3 separate regions of the Homo sapiens genome follow, and regions 1 and 3 are each linked to region 2. The links come from fine-mapping of genetic effects on gene expression. A gene starts in region 2. Each other region holds a variant in brackets. All regions are shown on one strand. Distances are from middle to middle.

Region 1 (6,668 bases), 25 kb before region 2:
GATGGCAATCATCACCCAAATTTGTGTTAGGCACCCATTATACGAGTAGCAAATAAATGCATTCAGAGGGTCACTTTTCATTGAGCGACTAGTGCTTCAACTTTGCCCATCATAAGCAACTGTCAACAGTTCCGAGTGAGCCGAAGGCATTTATGACACTAGTTTGTGAGGCTATCTTGACTGCATTATTCTTTCCCTCACTGACCTGCGGCAGAGACTGCTAGTTGTCCCCAGACATATTAGTTAAGATGGGCTAAGTCATGTTGCAGTAAAAATTAACTTCAAATAAATCTCAGTGCTTTGATACAGTTCATGTTGCATGTAGATTGGCAGAGGCTCCATTCCCATTCAGTCTCTGAGGGATCCACGTCAGTGGAGGCTGCAGTGCCTTGTAGCTACATCTGGAACCTGTGGCTTCCTTGGCTGCCTTGGCAGGGGAGAGCTACTGGAGACTATAATCTTGTCACCACGTGTCACCTCCCGTCATAGCCAACTGGCTAGAACACACCAGATGGCCTCACTAATAGGTTCCATCTTTTGGTTCCCAGAAGGGGAGGGGAACCAGAACTTGATAGACACTTGAGTATCTACCATATCCAGTTCCTATTCTTCCCTTCTTGAATAGCAACAGAATTCTCGGTCGTTAGCTGGGCACGTGGCTGTCCCTCCCTCCTCTAAACACGACATTTCTAAGTCTAAGTGGCTAAACTGTGACCAATGGATGTCAGTTAAAAGTGTGGTCACAACCTGCTGGAAGTGTCCTTAAGGACAGGAATTGTACCCTTCTTCTCCTTCTTCATCCTTCCTGCTGGCTAGCATGTAAATAATACGTACTATTATGGGGTGGGCTCCAGCAGCTCCCTTGGATTTTGAAGTGACCTTGGGAATGGAAGCCAAGCATGAAGAACCAATACCTGGAAGGGGCCTTGGTTCCTGACCTCTTGGAGAACAATACCAACTCGGGACTGTCTCCTTCCTAAATGTGTGAGAGAAATAAACTTCTGTCTTGTTTAAGCCACCGTTGTGTGTTGTGTGCAGCTGAATTTAATCCTTACTAATATGGAGCCCCAGTGTAAAGTCTGTTCCGGATTCTTTTCTCAATAAGTAATATCCCTCTTCCCCTTCCATGGTCGGAATCAACTGATAGACATAAAAAGATAGAGGTAAAAATCTCCCTGCTATTACTAATAAAGCTGATGGGGATGTGGCTTTAGATTGGTGAGCAAAAGGGCTAGTTAGCACTTCCTCTTGAAATGGACAGATTATCTGCCTCTGTTACTGACCTAACTTAGGTCTCTTGGCCTCAGCACCATTGGCACGCTGGACCAGGTGACCGTCGCTGGGTTTATCCTGTACACTAGGTTTAGCAGCATCCCGTCCTCCACTCCTAGATGCCAACAGCACTCCAGTCATGATAATCAAAACTGTCTCCAGACATTGCCCAGTGTCCTCTGGGGAACAAAATGTCCCCAGCTGAGAACAACTGGCATAACTGAACAATTGCAGGAGCCCCCCTCAGGTCAATCTAGATGCGTATCTCCACAGGCAGGAAATTCCCGAACAGAGGAAAGCCAAAGTCACCAAGCCTTTCATGTCCAGTTCCCTTTTCCATACTCAGAGAAGCCACCCGCTTTGCTTCTAAAAGAGTGACTGAGGGAGTAGCAGAGGCCAACAGTGTCACTCTAATCCAGGTTCCTCTACACGGAAGCCTAATGCTAGCGTAGTTCTGAAAATGCTCCCTTCTTTTGTCATTAGCCCTGTGTACAGAGATTCATTTTTCCTGACAGCCTAAATTTTCACAAACATTAGCTAGAAATAATGTGAATGGTTGGATACAATTACCTTCATTCGAAATAAAAGAATGGGAACTAGAAAGGCTCAATGAGCAAGAATAAAGACATTGGGTCCAGCACTATATTTTTTTAAGGGTGGCTGGCCACTGCTTTGAGTCCATGTGTTTATCCTGAGAGTCACTGTGGGTGTTTGGAGAAAGGAGGGAGTGTATAGTGTGGGGGTGTGCACACAGGCCCCTCTTCAGCTCTCTCAAGAGGAGAGCTGCCTGTAGTTACAAGCCCTTGGATCCTTGGATAGAATAAGCTCGGGCCTCAGCACCTCCTTAAACTCTAAAACATTAAACACCCCACAAAGCTTTTGTTTATATATGTATTATACTGACTGATATGTAAAGTATTGCACATTAAAACTAGGAAATTATATAAGTATTGCAAATTAAAACTAGGAAATTATATAAGTATTTAATCCATCTAAAAATAAAAATAGTAAACACAATACATGTTAAATATTTTTATGGAAAAAACTATGTTTTCCAAGACAAAAACAATTTAGTGAAGATGACACTATTTTACATTTCACAAATCTCTTAAAGTCTGGCCTAATAGAAGACAGATGGATTTTCCCGTCAGCTTGTGTGAATTCTGCTGTGATACGTTTTGGTTTACATACATAAAGAAAAGCCCAGCCTCATATAAATACGTAGTTGGAAAATGGAAAGTTGTTTTAATAGCCTCTTCAGATCCCAAAGGCCATCCTTCCTTGAAACTACATCAGAACTCGCCAAGTGGTAGCTTCAAGGTGAGTTGCAACCCTCCACCTCTGGGCGCCTTGCCTTCGAGACCTGTGGTCTGGGGCTGCTCCTCCGGCTGCGGTGACGGCCACCTTGCCTGACCCATGCCTTGGCTTTGGAGACTCGCATCTCCCAGGCCATACTGTCACTCTTCATCACTTCTCCCACTGCTTCTCCTTTATACTGTGTCCCCCTTTCTTCTCTCCCTGTCCTGTCATCCTGGCTCTTTCCTCCTTTTGTTTTTTGCTCCTTTCTTTACCTTCTCTCAGCAGATCTTCCCTTGCTTCTCTGGGCCCTCGCCTCCTGTCCTCTGAAGGCCAGGCTGAAAGCCCCAAACATCATCCCTTTCCCACCTGACTGGAGTGACAATAGGGCCTAAGGCCAACAAGGCACCAGGTCTGTCTTTAGCAGTCAGAGAAACTACAAAAGCAAAACATAAAGCCAGGAGAAGGCACTGCCTTAATCTGCAGCTAACGCCTGGCAAGGCCGGGGTGCACCGCTTGGAGGG[T/G]GGGGTAAGCCAATCCTAATAGAATCAAAAAGCCAACTTCGAAACACTGTAATACAATGGGTTGCTTTTAATGACCCAGGTGGTTTTATTCTGATTTTCATTTTTAATTATGTTAATCGAGTGGCCCATTTCTGAGATATGAAGAAACAGTTTCATGTATGAAAGTGAAACGCTGGTTCTGTCTTAAGCCCCTCAAGCCCTCAGCAGCACCATCATTCACTTGCTAACCTTGGGCATTCACTTGACTCCGCCAATACATGCATCCCTGGGGCCAAAACCATCAAAAGGGAGGCACAAAAGGAGTCATAGCTGTCTCAAGTACAGGGGGGCTCATCTTTTGCTGAGGCAAAGGACAATTAGTTAGATGTGCTTTAACTTTTAGCAAAATGCAAATTTGGCAATCTTTTTTTCATTACAAATTCCGTTAGTTACTGAAGTCATCGTTTTTTTTTTATTTTTTATTTATTTATTTATTTTTTTAACTTTAGATGGAGTCTCGCTCTGTTGCCAGGCTGGAACGCAGTGGTGCAATCTCGGCTCACTGCAACCTCTACCTCCCAGGTTCAGGTGATTCTTCTGCCTCAGCCTCCTGAGTAGCTGGGACGACTGGTGCGTGCCACCAGGTCCGGCTAATTTTTGTATTTTTAGTACAGATGGGTTTCACCATGTTGGCTAGGATGGTCTTGATCTCTTGACCTTGTGACCTGCCTGCCTCAGCCTCCCAAAGTGCTGGGATTACAGGCGTGAGCCACCACGCTCGGCCTGAAGTCATCTTTTAAAAAAAATTCTCAGGGCCAGGTGTGGTGGCTCATGTCTGTAATCCCAGCACTTTGGGAGGCAGAGGCAGGCAGATCACTTGAGGTCAGGAGTTCGAGACCAGCCTGGCCAACGTGGTGAAATCCCACCTCTACTAAAAAAACACAAAAATTAGCCAGCTGTGGTGGCCCATGCCTGAAATCCCAGCTACTCTGGAGTCTGAGGCACGAGAATCACTTGAACCTGGGAGGCAGAGGTTGCAGTGAGCTGAGATCATACCACTGCACTCCAGCCTGTGTGACAGAGTGAGACTCCGTTACAAAAAAAAAAAAAAATTTCTTGGGAGTTGGGTCGAATGATGTAGTCAGGTCAGGTCACTTACCAACCAGCAACAACTTACTGAACATTGTATTAGTCCATTCTCATGCTGCTAATAAAGACATACCCAAGACTGGGTAATTTATAAAGGAAAGAGGTTTAATTGACTCACAGTTCAGCATGGCTGAGGCCTCAGGAAACTTACAATCATGGTGGAAGGGGAAGCAAACATGTCCTTCTTCACATAGTGGCAGGAGAGAGAAGAATGAGAGCCGATCCAAGGGGGAAGCCCCTTACAAAAGCATCGGATCTTGTGAGAACTTACTATCACGAGAACAGGATGGAGGAAACAGCCCCCATGATTCAATTTTCTCCATCTGGTCCCTCCCACAACATGTGGGGATTATGGGAACTATAATTCAAGATGAGATTGGGGTGAGAACACAGCCAAACCATATCATTCTGTCCCTGGCCCCTCCCAAATCTCATGTCCTCATAATTCCAAACATAACCCTGCCCTTCCAACAGTCACCCAAAGTCTTAGCTCATTCCAGCATTAACTCAAAACTCCAAGTCCAAAGTCTCATCTCAGACAAGGCAAGTCCCTTCCACCTATGGGCCTGTAAAACCAAAAGCAAGTTAGTTACTTCCTAGATACAATGGGGGTACAGGGATTGGGTAAATACACCCATTCCAAATGGGAGAAATTGGCCAAAACAAAGAGGCTACGGGTGCCATGCAAGTCCGAAATCCAATACGGCAGTCATTAAACCTTAAAGTTCCAAAATGATCTCCTTTGACTCCGTGTCTCCCATCCAGGTGATGTTGATGCAAGAGGTGGGCTCCCATGGCCTTGGGCAGCCCCACTCCTGTGGCTTTGCAGGGTATACCCCCACCCCCACCTTGGTTACTTTCACAGGCTGGTGTTGAGTGTCTGGGACTCTTCCGGGTGCACAGTGCAAGCTACCATTCTGGGGTCTGGAGGACGGTGGCCCTGTTCTCACAGCTCCACCAGGCAGTGCACCAATCGGGACTCTGTGTGGGGGATCCAACCCCGTATTTCCCTTCCACACTGCCCTAGCAGAGGTTCTCCAGAGAGCGAACTTCTGCCTGGACATCCAGGTGTTTCCATACATCCTCTGAAATCTAGGCAGAGGTTCCCAGACCTTAATTCTTGACTTCTGTGCACCCATAGGCCCAACACCATGTGTAAGCCAAGGCTTGGGGCTTGCACCCTCTGAAGCAACAGCCTGAGCTTTATGTTGGTCCCTTTTAGCCAAGGCTGGAGCTGAAGAAGCTAGGATGCAGGGCACCATGTCCCAATGCAGCATAGAGCGGGGGGTGGGGGGGGGGCCCTTATAGGCCCCCAGGCTTGTGATAGGAGGGGCTGCTGGAAGGTCTCTGACATGCCCTGGAGACATCTTCCCCATTCTCTTGGTGATTAACATTTGACGTTACTTATGCAAATTTCTGCAGCCAGCTTAAATTTCTCCCCAGAAAATGGAGTTTTCTTTTCTATCCCATCATCAGGCTGCAAAATTTTCCAAACTTTTATGCTCTGCTTCCTCTCGAACACTTTGCTGCTTAGAAATTTCTTCTGCCAGATACCCTAACTCATCTCTCTCAAAGTTCCATGCATCTCTACGGCAGAGGCAAAATGCTACCAGTCTCTTTCCATAGCAAGAGTGACCTTTACTCCCGCTTCCAATAGGTTCTTCATCTCCATCTTGACCACTTCAGCCTGGACTTCACTGTCCATATCACTATCAGCAATTTGTCAAAGCTATTCAACAAGTCTCTAGGAAGTTCTAAATGTTTCCCACATTTTCCTGTCTTCTTCTGAACCCTCCAAACTGTTCCAACCTCTGCCTGTTACTCAGTTCCAAAGTTGCTTCCACATTTTTGGGTATCTTTACAGCAGCACCCCACTCTCTGTGGTACCAATTTACTGTATTAGTCCATTCTCAAACTGCTAACAAAGACATACCCAAGGCTGGGTAATTTATAATGGAAACAGATTTAATTGACTCATAGTTCAGCATGGCTGGCTCAGGAAACTTACAATCATGGTGGAAGAGGAAGCAAATACGTCTTTCTTCATATGGTGGCAGGAGGGAGAATGAGAGCCGAGCGAAGGGAAAAGCCCTCTATTAAACCATTAGATCTCGTGAGAACTTACTATCACGAGAACAGGATGTAGGGAAACAGCTCCCATGATTCAGTTATCTCCACCTGGTCCCTCCCACGACACATGGGGATTATGGGAACTGCAATTCAAAATGAGATTTGGGTGGGGACACAGCCAAACCCTATCATACACTACATTAATATGAGAAATACCTATTAAGACATGAGCTTACACTCTGACAACATGGAATGGCAGCTGGGAACGTAGCCGCAGCAACTTATGAGGAAGGAAGATGGCCACCTGCGTGCTGTGTATAAACTGCATGCAGGGTAGGAGTAAAGGGGAGGCATGGGTGAAGCCAGGTCCAGAATAGG
Region 2 (6,668 bases):
GGGAACTCTGGACAAAGGAAGATTCAGGTGCTGGGTGGTACTGGACAGCTCAAGATTTCATGACACTACTGAGAATGGCAAGCAGTTTAAAACTAATGAATTATTTCTGGAATTTTCATTTTAATAGTTTGGGGGACCACAGGTTAACTGAAATAAAGAAAAGTGAAACCTCAGATGAGAGGGGACTAATAGGAGTTTGAAACCTAAGTAGGAAGGTCTAGTAGACAGCTGGAAAACCCTGAAGGAGATTTATAGATTTGGGAATTATGACATGGTAACTGAAAATACCAGAACTGTATGTCTAAGATTTCAAGGGATGTATCTGCTGATACTACATGCAAACTAAGTGGTTTTTCCACAGTGAGCTTAGAGTTTTTATCACGTTCTCAAATATTAAGACCACCAATACAGATGGTACCAATATACAGCTGACCCTCAAACAACACAGGTTTGAATTGTGTGGGTCCACTTAGAGACCAATTTTCTTTACCCGCTGCCACCCCTTAGAGAGCAAAACCAGCTCCTCCTCTTACTCTTGTTCATCAGCCCACTTAGTGTGAAGACAAGGATGAAGACCTTTACGATGACCTAATTCCCCCGAAGGAGTAGGATTTTCTCTTATTTATGATTTTCTTAATAACATTTTCTTTTCTTTAGCTACTTTACTATAAGAAAACAGTAACTAATACATATAAATACAAAATATGTGTCAATTAACTGTTTACGGTATCAGTAAGGCTTCCAGCAAACAGTAAAGTTTTGGGGGAATCAAAGTTATATTCAGATTTTGAATTTCATGGGATTTGGTGCCCCAATCCCTGAGTCGTTCAATGATCAAATGTAGATGGTAACAGAAGTCATGGGAGGAGTGAATGAACTCCCCTAAGAAGAATGTGTAGAGACGGTAGAAGAGAACCCTGAATAATACCAACATGTGGCCAGCTGCAGAGGCTCACGCCTGTAATCCCAGCACTTTGGGGAGCTGAGGTGAGAGGACTGCTTGAGCCCAGGAGTTCAAGACCAGCCTGGGCCCCATAGGAAGACTCCCATCTCTAAAAATAAAAATAATTAGCCAGGTGTGGTGGCATGTGCCTGTGGTCTCAGCTACTTGGGAGTTGGAGGCAGAAGGATCACTTGAGCCTGGGAGGTAAGGCTGCAGTGAGCCATGATGTGCCACTGCACTCCAGCCAGGGTGACAGAGTGAGATCCTGCACCGGGGGGGGGGACAAAAACAAAAACAGAAAAACAAATCAACATGAAGGAATGGGAAGAGGATGAGGACAAGGAGAAGCCAGAGAAGCAGATGGAGCATCAAACGTCAAGGAAGCTCAAGGGAGGGTTTCTAACACGAGTGTTGTAGTCAAAACTACAACAGCTGCTGGAATTGACGAGCTTGTCGGTGACCTTGGTTAGAATGGTCTTACAAGTGTGCTTAGGATAGGGGTCCCCAGCAGTGGGTTGGCTGGTAATAAGAGGCCATCAAGTGGAAACAGTGAGTGTAAATAACCTTTTCAAGAAGTTTAGCTGTGAAAGCACTTTGGGAGGCTGAGGCGGGTGGATCACGAGGTCAGGAGATTGAGACCATCCTGGCTTACACGGTGAAACCCCATCTCTACTAAAAATACAAAAAAAAATTAGCCGTGCGTGGTGGCGGGTGCCTGTAGTCCCAGCTACTCAGGAGGCTGAGGCAGGAAAATGGCGTGAACTCGGGAGGCGGAGCTTGCAGTGAACCGAGATCAGGCCACTGCACTCCAGCCTGGGTGACAGAGCAAGACTTCGTCACCAAAAAAAAAAAAAAAAAAAAAAAGTTTAGCTGTGAAGAGGAAGAGAGACAGTAGATGGGAGGGGATATGGAATCAAGGGAGAGATCTTTTAAGATGGGGATGGATTTAGAATGCGGTTTTAGTAGTCAAGAATTTATCATCTGGAGTTAGACATTTGGAGCTTCAACCCAAGTTTCTACACTTATTATCCAGCCACAGGCAAGCCGGCGTTACATGCATCTCCAAGTCTGTTTTGGCAACCGTGAAACAAGAATAATAATCTTTTAGTATTATAAAACACTGCTGTGAGAAATGAGAAATTAAATGAGGCAATAATCACAAACTATTTGGTAGGGGAACCAGGCATAATGACTTGGGAAAATGTTTAATTACTACTAGTTATAGAAAGAAAGCAGCAGAGAAATTGAAAATACGGGGAGAGGTCGGGCTCGGTGGATCACCTGAGGTCGTCAGGAGTTCGAGACCAGCCTGGCCAACACGGCGAAATCCCGTCTCTACTAAAAATACAAAATTAGCTGGGTGTGGTGGCGCATGCCTGTGATCCCAGCTACATGGGAGGCTGAAGCAGGAGAATCTCTTGAACCTGGGAGGTGGGGGTTGCAGTGAGCTGAGATTGCGCCATTGCACTCCAGCCTGGGGAACAAAAGTAAAACTCAATCTCAAAAAAAAAAAAAAAAAAGAAAAAAAAGAAAGAAAAGAAAAAGAAAATGCATTTGTTGAGGGCCCTGATAACCGCGGGGAATACAGCATCTGGTCCTGAACAAGAGAAGAAATCAGCCTTTGCAGGAAAGGGAGCCAAATTTCCTAACCATTTTCTCTGTCAAACAGGTGGGGAGATAATTTGATGAATGGGAGCTGTGGCGTGGGAAATATAAAGCGTGGACAAGGTTTTAAACGGCTGCAGTAGAGCAGAAGGATGGGAGAGGAGGCAGAAAAACAAATGATAGGTTGCAGAGATACAGCTAGAGTCCATAGAAGGAGATAAACATGGACTCTCTAATGCAAAGTTGAGCAATTTTCTCCAACAGTGCTCTGAAGTTCCGATGTAAAAGCCTAGAAGACTGATACCACGTCTGTGAGCAGATGCTGAAAGCAGAAGGCGGGAGAGCGCAGTTCGCAGCACGTGATGGGCAGCGCCTGGCCCAGGGGGAGCAGACGACCCAGACGACGGCCAGCGGGGTTGGCGGCGGCGCGGGGAGGAGGGGGCCGGATTTGGGAGACCACCGCCCGTCCCCGTCCCGTCCCGGAGCTTACCAGCAGGCCCTCCACGTTGATGGGGTCTCGGCACCGACGGCGAACCGTCTCCTCCGTCGGGTCCAGGAGGAGACTGGGTAACTTCCTCGCCGGCCGCTGCTGACTCATGCTGCCCGGCCGGGCGTCCTGCTCCCCTCGCACCCCACGAGCTCTCCCGCCCTCTCGCGCTCAGCTCGAGCACCGCCCCCCACGCGCCGATTTCCAAGGGCCCAGCACCTAAGGGGTCCGCGGCTTCCTCCGAGGCGCCGCCCGGCTAGGCCGTCCCGCCCGCCAGTAAACGCGGCACGGCCTCACGTGCCCGGGAGCTCCCGACGCAGACGGAAAAAGAGGAGGGAGACCCGCGGATCTCAAGTCGCCCGGCCCGCCATCTTCCCGCATGCGCAGTACACCGCCCCCCTCTGCGCATGCCCGCCGCTGCCGGAGCGCTCCCACGCACCGATCCTCTCCCGGCGGCTGCCGCCCGGGAAACCCGGACCGCGGAATCCACGGAGAGGCTGGCAAAGGAAAAGGAAGAGGTGGAGCCGAATTCCAGAGGAAGGGAACAGGGGTGAGAGAAAAGAGGCAACCGGGAAAACCCAGCGGTCGCCTGGAATTCTCGACGGTGATAACTGAAAGTTCTGAGGTGATAACTGAAAGTTCTGAGCCGCAGAGATGTTCATTTATTCCTTTTTTTTATTTTAATTTTTTTTTTGGTCGCCCAGGCTGGAGTGCAGTGGCGTGGTCAGGGCTCACTGCAGCCTTGAATTCCCGGGCTCAAGCGATCCTCCACCTCAGCCTCCCAAGTAGCTGGGACTACATGCGCGCGCCACTGTGCCTGGCTAATTTTTAATTTTAATTTTAGTAGAGACAGGGTCTCAGTATATTGCCCCGGCTGGTCCTGAACTCTGGGGCTCAAGCCGTCCTCCCACCTTGGCCTCTCAAGTGCTGGGATTATAGGCGTGAGCTACCACACCCAGCCTTCATTTATTCGTGAGCTCTGTTAGCGCATCTTACAGGCAGGTCAGTGTTGATGCTTAGTAAATGTGAGCAACCACACCATTGTGGAATCGTTTTACCTCTGCCTGCCCGCCTGCCTGCCTGCCTGCCTTCCTTCCTTCCTTCCTTCCTTCCTTCCTTCCTCCTTCCTGTTTGACGAATGAGTTATCGTTGACCTATAGTGTCAGATATTGGGGTGGGCACAGGCGATACTTATTCGTTTGAATATGCCACGGGTTCAACCTCCAATTTCAGTGGGGACAGATAAGTAAACAGAGCATGTTAATTTAGCTGGAGCCAGAAGGTGTGTTTTCAAGTCCTGGCTGCCTCTACGTATAAACTAGAAGACCTTATTAAGCCAGTTACTTAATCTGTCTGTGCCTCAGTTTCCTTATTTGGAAAATGCAAATAATGACAATACTTACCTGATAAGGTTGTTGTGAGGATTAAATGGATTAATGGATACAGGTTGCTGTGATTAGAACAGAGGCCAGCACATGTTTGAAATAAAAAGGCAACACACCGTGGTATGTACAGAGTTGGAGGGAAACAACTGGTTAGACTGGGGGTTTCTACACAGCCTGAGGTGGGCGAGGTGAGGCAGGGAAAAATCCCCGAAGAAGCTGGTTCCCCACTAGACTGTGAGGTCAGAGGCCTTCTCTAATCTTTTTTTTTTTTTTTCTGTCACCCAGGCTGGAGGGCAGTGTCACGGTCATAATTCACTGTAGCGTCAAACTCCTGGCCTCAAGTGATCTCCCAGCTAAGACTCCCAAGTAGCTGAGAGTACAGGTGCATGCCACCATGCCTGGCTAATTTTTTTTTATGTTTTATTTTATTTTATTTTTTGAACTCCTTACCTTAAGCAATCCTCCTGCCTCAGCCTCCCAAGGTGCTGGAGTTATAGGCGTGAGACACCCATGCCTGGCTTCTAATCTTTGTATCTCTATCATCTAGCAAAGTGTCTGGCAAATAAAACATGCTCTATTAATGTTTGCTAAATAAACGATGAGAAAAAAAGAGAACGTAGCGGAGGTCTCGAGAAGACTGCATATTGTTGCAGAATGGAGAATTTCCCAGAGCCGTTAGAAATGGCCATTTGAAGGCATTTATTCAGCATCTGCTATGTGTTTGGCATTCCACATGCATTTGCTTATGTAAATCTCATATCAAAACTGAAAGATAGGTATTTTTCTGCCCAATTTGCAGATCAGCAAAATTAAGATCAGCAGGATTACAAAAATTTACTCAAGGTCCTAGTAGGCAGTGGTAGAGGCAGGCTTTGACTCCACAACTGATTAATTAATTTGGCATTCAGATCTTTAGGAAGATTCTTCAAGGACGACTAGATTCTCTACAACCAGAGTTGGGGTTGGGCAAGTAAAGGTGGGGTGTGGATCAGGACGGAGTAGCAAGTGGTCCAGGCTAAAGAAAGAGCATGAGCACAGAGCTGGGGAGAGTCGGGGAAATGGCACAATCCTCACACTTATTGTGCCTGTGACCTGGCTTTTCCCCAAGACATAATCTTTTGCACATTTTTTTTTTTGAAGCATCTCTCATGGGCCAAGCAGTAGGGTAGGTGTTGAGGGAAGAACTGAATCTGATGGGGCCTTACCTTGTGTTCCAGGGGCTACTAGCCTGGGGGAGATACATAAGCAGAAAGCATAAGTACTAAATTAGAGTGTGTCTAACACACAATAGCAGCACAGCAGAGGAAGAAAAAATAATAACTGAATTAGTTGTAAACTACAGGTGCTTTTCCACATCTGCCTGTGAGGCAGCTATTTCAAGAATACTTTATAGAAGGCCGGGCATGGTGGCTCACACCTATAATCTCAGCACTTTGGGAGGCTGAGGCAGGAGGCTCACTTGATTGAGGTCAGGAGTTTGAGACCAGCCTGACCATCATGGCGCAACCCTGTCTCTTCTATAAATACAAAAATTAGCCGGGCGTGGTGGCAGGCGACTGTAATCCCAGCTACTAAGGAGGCTGAGGCAAGAGAATCGCTTGAACTTGGGAGGTAGAGGTTGCAGTGAGCTAAGATCATGCCACTGCACTCCAGCCTGGGTGACACAGCAAGACCCTGTCTCAAAAAAAAAAAAAAAAAAAAAATATATATATATATATATATATATGAGGGTACAGAGGCTCAGAGAAGTTTGTTCCAGGTTGGGTACTCAAATACCAGGACTTTGGCCACTACATCCTTGGCTTTGTCCACCATGGCCTTACATTGATATACAGTCACAGTTCTGAGCACAGAAATTCTGGTATTTCCCAGTTCCAGCCCTGTTTTTGTGTATGCTTCCTGGGGCAAAATGGTGCTAGGGCAGAATGGGGCATGGGCTTTGGGACTTTCAAGTTAGGGCTGAAGACTATACTTCCCAGGGATCATTTTTAAAGTTAGGGCTGAAATATTAGGCCAACTGCACAGGTGTGCTTGAGCAATCCTGAAAGCCCTCATCTGTCAGAAGATATTTTACTTCCCTTCTACTTGAAAATGTCCTCTCCAGAGGTCCGTGAGGAAATGACCATATCCACTAGGGCTTTCTGTGATGATGGAAATGTTCCACATTGTTCCATATGGTGGCCACTGCCCCATGTGGCCACTGGCACCTGAAATAAGGCTGGTGTGTCTGAGGAAGTGAATTTCAATT
Region 3 (6,668 bases), 46 kb before region 2:
CTCCAAAAGCATGAGCCCCAAGGAACAGGGAAGAAACTGCATTGCCTTTTTTTTTTTTTTTTTTTCTTTTTGAGATGGAGTCTCACACTCTCGCCCAGGCTGGAGTGCAATGGCGCGATCTCGGCTCACTGCAAGCTCCACCTCCCGGGTTCACGCCATTCTCCTGCCTCAGCCTCCCGAGTACCTGGGACTACAGGCACCCACCACCACGCCCAGCTAATTTTTTGCATTTTTAGTAGAGATGAAGTTTCACCATGTTAGCCAGGATGGTCTCGATCTCCTGACCCTGTGATCCACCCACCTCAGCCTCCCAAAGTGCTGGGATTACAGGCGTGAGGCACCGCGCCCGGCCATTGCCTTTTTTAAGGTAGCCTCAGAGAGCATCACTTCTGCACATTCTATCAGTTGCAAGCAAGTCCCAAGCCTGCCTAGATTCAAGGATCCAGGACATAGACCCTGCCTCTTGATGGAAGGGTGGCAAGGTCACATTGTAGGAGAAGATGTGGGATGGGAGATATTGCCACAGTCATCTATGGAAAATACCATCTGCCATTCTAGTGAGGATGTGTCACCTCTGGGCTTTACTAACATTAGTGAAGGGACGTGCTCATCTGCCAAATGCCGTTAAAGTATTGCTGGGGCTGTAGCTCATGGCCAGTTACAGCTGCTTGGGTTTGAATCAGATCTCTCAACCAACCAACCAACCAACCAACCAATGCAGGAACCAGCCTATCTACAGCAATACCCTCTAAGAGTCAAATACTGGGCCAAGAGCCAAGTATGAATTAAAAAGGCCCCTACCCTCAAGGATCACCTGAATCTTAAATGTTAGTGTACATAGAGCTAGCTGGAGTAAAAGTTTAAACTACAGATGCCTGTCTGCCTTCCTTCATTCTAATTCAGTTGTCAGTTCCAGCTGGAGCACAGGAATCTGCGTTGTAACAAGCCCGTAGGTGGTTCTAGCATAAGAGATCCGAGGGGGGCACTTTGAGACTCACTGATCAGCAGAACTAGTGCTTTGAGACTGGGCATGGTGGCTCACACCTGTAATCTTAACACTTTGGGAGGCTGAAGCAGGTGGGTCACTTCAGGTCAGGAGTTCAAGACCAGCCTGGTCAACGTGGTGAAGCCCCGTCTCTACTAAAAATATAAAAATTAGCCAGGCATGGTGGCACACACCTGTAATTCCAGCTACTCAGGAGGCTGAGGTGGAAGGATCGCTTGAACCTGGGAGGTGGAGTTTGCAATAAGCCAAGATCATGCCATTGCACTCCGGCCTGGGCAACAGAGTGAGACTCTGTCTCAAAAAACAAAACAAAACAAAACAAAACAAAACAAAACAAAACAAAACAAAACAAAACAAAAAAAACTAGTGCTTTGGTCCAGAGAGTGAGCTTGGGTGCTTTTCATAAGTCATTAGCTTTCAGTTTGCCTGGCTTCTCTCCTTGAATCTTACTAGCTGTGGTAGGTTAGATTGTTGTGCCCGTTTTTGATTTATAGCCCGGCAGCCTCAAAACCATCCTTTTTGCCTGCTAGTGAAAATGAATCTGGGCCTTTTACATATTTTTTTTCTTCGCTAGCTGGCACAATTTTAAGCTTTGTCAGTAGAGGGCGCTAGAGAGATGCTGCAGACGAAAAACGGTTTGCTTCCTGGTTCCCACAGGCTTGACCCGCAGCCTGCTTTAAGGAGTGGCTTCTCCAGTGAACAGCTCCTAGAGCACACATAGCTTCTCAAGCACACAGCTCCTGCACAAACTGTGGTGCATCTATGCAGTGGAAAATTATTCAGCAACAAAAAAATGAGCTATCGAGCCACAAAAAGACATGGAAGAATCTTAAATGCATATTGCTAAGTTAAAGAAGCCAGTCTGAAAAGGTTACAATTGCATATCATTCTGGAAAAGGCAAAACTAGAGAGACAGTAAAAAGACCAGTGGTTGCCAGGAGTTAGGGGTAGGGAAGGGGAGATCAATAGGTGAAGCACAGGGGATTTTTAGGGTGGTGAAACTATTAGGTGTGATACTGTAGTGGTAGATACAAGACGTCATGCACTCAGCAAAACCTGTAGAGATGTACAACAGAAAGAGTGAATCCGAATGGAAACTATAGACTTAATAATAATGCATTAATGTCAGGTCATCAATTGCAACAGGTGTACTACATCAATTCAAGATGTCATTAATAGTAGGGGAAACTGTGCACAGAAAGAGGGGGTTATAATGGGAATTTTGTACTTTGCATCATTTTTCTGTAAACCTAAAACTACTCTAAAAATATAATCTATTTTTAAAAGTCATTGAAGGCAAAAATAAAAGGTTCAGCAAACACTGATTTTAGAATTTTAGGTCCCCCTCCTACAATTCTGCCTAGAGTATTTGATTATTTCTTTTCATATTTACAGTGGCACAAAGGGAAAATAATGGACACTTTATGTTTTACCTAAGACATTTTGCAGTTCTACATAGATACTCACATTTCATTTTCATTTTTATTTATTTATTTTTTTGAGACAGAGTCTTGCTCTGTTACCTAGGCTGGAGTGCAGTGGCGCAATCTTGGCTCACTGCAACCTCTGCCTCCTGGGTTCAAGCGATTTTTGTGCCTCAGCCTCCCGAGTAGCTGGGATTACAGGTGTGCACCTCCATGCCTGGCTAATATTTTGTATTTTTAGTAGAGACAGGGTTTCTCCATGTTGGCCAGGCTGGTCTCAAACTCCTGACCTCAAGTGATCTGCCTGCCTCAGCCTCCCAAAGTGCTGGGATTACAGACGTGAGCCATCATGCCTGGCCTTTTTTTTTTTTTAATCATATTCAACTCATCCATTCAAAATGCTGATGTATCAGCCAGGCACGGTGGCTCACACCTGTAATCCCAGCACTTTGGGAGGCCGAGGCTGGCGATCACCTGAGGTTAGGAGTTCAAGGCCAGCCTAGCCAACACAGTGAAACCCCATCTCTACTAAAAAACAAACAAAAAATATAAAAAAATTAGCCAGGTGTGGTGGTTCACGCCTGTAGTTCCAGCTACTCGGGAGGCTGAGGCAGGAGAATCACTTGAATTTGGGAGGCAGAAGTTACAGTGAGCTGAGATCGGGCCACTGCACTCCAGCCTGGGTGACAGAGTGAGACTCTGCCTCAAAAAACAGAAAAGAAAAAAAAAAGCGATCAATGTTTTCACTTTGTAAGCCATGGTTTTATGTACAGGGTGTACTAAAAAATCCTCATAGGAAAAGGAGAGTCCGTGGAAAAACTAAATTCTCCCTTTCAGATTTGTCCACTGTGTGGTAGTGGCAACAGCAATTTCTGAAAGAAAGGTCTTGGATAGCACTGCCAAGTTGCAGCTTCATAAACTATCAAGTGAGCTGTTTTCTGTGAGGACAACTCGCACACTTGCTATCACCATACACAGTGAGCTACTAAAGATACCGCAGCTCTCAGGGCTGACTTCAAGCGGATATGAGAATGCGACACAGCTGATTGCCTGCTCCAAGTCCCAAATTGGAAACATGAGCTTGCCCACATA[C/A]GACATTCCAACTAACTCGACAAATGAATCCTCAAATGCTCCTCACGATCATTTGTTTTAAAAAGCTCAAGTGATTTTTCATTGTCTCAGACTGCTGCTGTGGAAGGCTGCCTATTGGAAAAAAAAAAACAAAAAACAAGGACAGAATCAAATGGAATATTTCCTAAGGCAGGGAGGAAAGAACAAAGTATTAAAAAGGACAAGAAGTCCCACTGCTGTAACAGAGATAGAGATTCCTGATCAAGAAGCCACATTTTTAGGAAAGTGGGATGTGCCGTTTTATTTTTAAAATGAGATGCAATCAATGACACACGCTGTACAGCATGTATTCTGTGTACTAGCCTCTCCCCTGGTTTCACATTATTTTCCTACCCTTATTTACCCTTTGCCCCAGTTTTCTTACTCTTTGAGAAAATACTGTATCTTTTCATAAGATGTTGGAAATCCTATTTGATACATTGTGAAGTGAAAATAAGTAGAAAATGCTATATTTTGAGCATTAATGATAACTTTCTAAATTTGCTGCAACGGATTATTTTTGGTGACTCTACTTAAAATACCTCAAATCAAATTCCTTACTTGAGTATAAGCATAAATATTCCAGATTTCTGAAATCAAGATTTAAAGAGTTATTCCAGCATACATGTATATACATACACATCCATGTAACTTTCATGAGACATGTATTACAAGCTGTTCGAACTACCGTTCCAGAGGTTCACTGACCAACGAAAATAACCTTAGTAGTGAAGTACAAAACCAAATCCAGAAAGCAGTCCAGGGGTTTAGTCAGATTGCTTCTTCTCACCGAGCAGCGTCATACAGTATGTATTCCTACCCATGCACACTGGTCAAGGGAAGAAAGAAGTGGTCAGTAGTAGGAGGAATGGGCTTAGGTAGTGATATGGTTTGGATTTGTGTCCCTGCCCAAATCTCGTGTCGAACTGTAATCCCCAGCGTTGGAAGTGGGGCCTGGTGGGAGGTGATGGGATCGTGGGGGCAGATTTTCCCCTTGCTGTTCTCATGATAGTGACTGAGTGCTTACGAGATCTGGTTGTTTACAAGTATGTACTGCCTCCTTCGCTCTCTTCCTCTTGCTCCAGCCATGTAAAATGTGCCTCCTTCGTCTTCTCATTCTGCCATGATTGTAAGTTTCCTGAGGTCTCCCCAGCCACGCTTCCTGAACAGCCTGCGGAACGGTGAGCCAACTAAACCTCTTTTCTTTATAAATTACCCAGCCTCAGGTCATTCCTTATAGCAATGCAACAAGGACAAACTAATCCAGGTGGTATGGTCATCATGAGTTAATGTTTGCCTGTTTGCCCCAACTGCTGAAGAGCTGTCTGACAATTAAGACCATCTCTAGTAACTACAGCACGAGCTGAAAGAATTTCACACCTCAAATTCCATAGCCTGACAAGGGGTCACCTTCATTTTTAAAGGGAATATGGCTTGTGAACCGTACTGTCTGGGGTCCGAATCCTGGCTCTAGTATTTCCCAGTTGTGGAGTTTTGGGCAAGCATGCCCTCATCCTCCTGAGCCTCAGCAACGACACTTATCTGACAAGGTAACACAAACATTAACTGTTTCTCCTAGTCCAGGGGCCGGCACCTGGTATGGGCTCAATAAATGGCAGTCATTATTATGAGTAGATAATTATAACAATAATAAAGTGTTAGAAAATTCATGAAAGTACAAGAGGCTTGAAATTTCTATAAACCACTCCCCAAACATGATATAATGTTTACCTACAACCCAGTTTTTCCTTTTGCACCAAATAAAATCCAGCTGTGCAGCTGAGAGGCAATGAAATTGAGAATGATTCTAAATTGTTGTAAATATATTTTCAAAGGATTGTAAATATATTTTCAAAGTTAAATGTAAAATGAGAGCCTGTTTGTAGACAACTGAGTTGGCTTGTGATGACATTTTTTACTAAAGCTGTCAGAGGATCTGAAAGAATTTTGCAAAGTACTGGACATGATGTTCAGCTTCTTTAGAAAGCTGATGAGCACTAAGCAATATGTTGCCTTGTTGTAAATAGCAAATCAGTGTCATGGTCTTTACTCTCCTTCACCAGATTATGTGATCGAATAAGTAACCACATGTTAGGTGGAAACAAATTGTAAAAGGCTTTTAACTAAGCAACGTTTCAATATTTGTTTGTTTTTTTGAGACGGTCTCTCTCTGTCACCCAGGCTGGAGTGCAGTGGTGCGATTATAGCTCACGGCAGCCTTGATCTTCTGGGCTCAAGTGATCCTCCCACCTCAGCCACCCGAAGTGCTGGTATTACAGGCGTGAGCCCCCATGCCCAGCTTCAATATTTCTTTTAAGTGTGGTTTGTTTTTTTCACTGCCAACACATTTTTATCTTAATGTTACCACCCAAGTCAACCAGAAGTCATTTAAGAAATAGCTGGTGTAGAAAATAATTTTGCAAAATGAGAAATCAGTTCAAAGGCTGGATTCCAAACTGGCATGAGCCTGTCCCCAGTGTTGGTGTCTCGTCTCCATGTGGTCTTTTGCCAACTCATCTGCTTTTGCCCCCGACCTGCCCTTGGGCAGAATCCAGTGCAGATCCTCATGCATTTAGGAAGGGTGTCTGAAGGCTTACTCAGCAGCCACCAGTCATCATGTCTTTTCTATTTTCTATTACCACATTCAGTTACAAACAGGTACACAAATATGAAGAGAAATGGAGGGCAAGGGACGTAAGATGGTGCATGTTTCTCCTGCCCTGGTAAAACGTCTTCTCTGGCAATATTATCTCCGTTGGTAGAATGGTTGCCTGTGACAGGAAGAGGTCGTGGGGGTAGGCAGAGCAGGGTAAGGTTTTAAACAAATTCTTTTTTGCAATATTTACTGATTATTTTATTTTTTCTCCATTGAAGAGACTCTTTTTTCTTTTTTTGCTCTATTCAGCCATTTTATGCTTTAACTCTGCAGACAATAACAAAAAATACACTAAACTACATTTAGACAGATGGGAAGAAATGGAGAAAAGAACAATTACTCAAAACACTAAGCTGAAGCTGAGTGTTGTGGCATGCACTCACAGTCCCAGCTACTCAGGCAGGAGGATCGCTTGAGCCCAGGAGTTCAAGGCCGCAGTGAGCCATGATTGCACCACAGCACTCCAGCCTGG

Direction of the effects. Positions count from the first base shown, and alleles are read on the strand shown. Sizes are in standard deviations (SD) of each study's normalised expression. Not every link is listed here.
With allele T in place of G in region 1, the expression in subcutaneous fat of the gene that starts at base 3,428 in region 2 is higher (small effect, 0.15 SD a copy in GTEx).

What was found. PIP is the estimated chance that this variant, and not a neighbour inherited with it, causes the effect.
Region 1: its variant is the best candidate, but not a certain one, in a credible set for the expression of E2F6 in subcutaneous fat (GTEx, PIP 0.76).
Region 3: its variant is the best candidate, but not a certain one, in a credible set for the expression of E2F6 in whole blood (TOPMed, PIP 0.85).

The regions. Positions count from the first base shown.
Region 1 is chr2:11,437,351-11,444,018 of GRCh38, forward strand. No RefSeq gene overlaps it. Among named protein-coding and RNA genes, the nearest start is that of E2F6, 25 kb to the right of the region's middle. The variant T/G (reference allele first, on the strand shown) is at 3,093.
Region 2 is chr2:11,462,734-11,469,401 of GRCh38, forward strand. It overlaps E2F6 (E2F transcription factor 6), which reads right to left and starts at 3,428. Exons shown (of 7, transcript NM_198256.4): 1 at 3,039-3,428. The coding sequence starts at 3,146. RefSeq lists enhancers at 2,622-3,179, 3,180-3,736, 4,164-4,243.
Region 3 is chr2:11,416,546-11,423,213 of GRCh38, forward strand. LOC105373429 (a long non-coding RNA gene) reads left to right here. Exons shown (of 4, transcript XR_001739285.2): 3 at 4,626-4,721; 4 at 4,965-5,492. Among named protein-coding and RNA genes, the nearest start is that of LINC00570, 26 kb to the left of the region's middle. The variant C/A (reference allele first, on the strand shown) is at 3,523.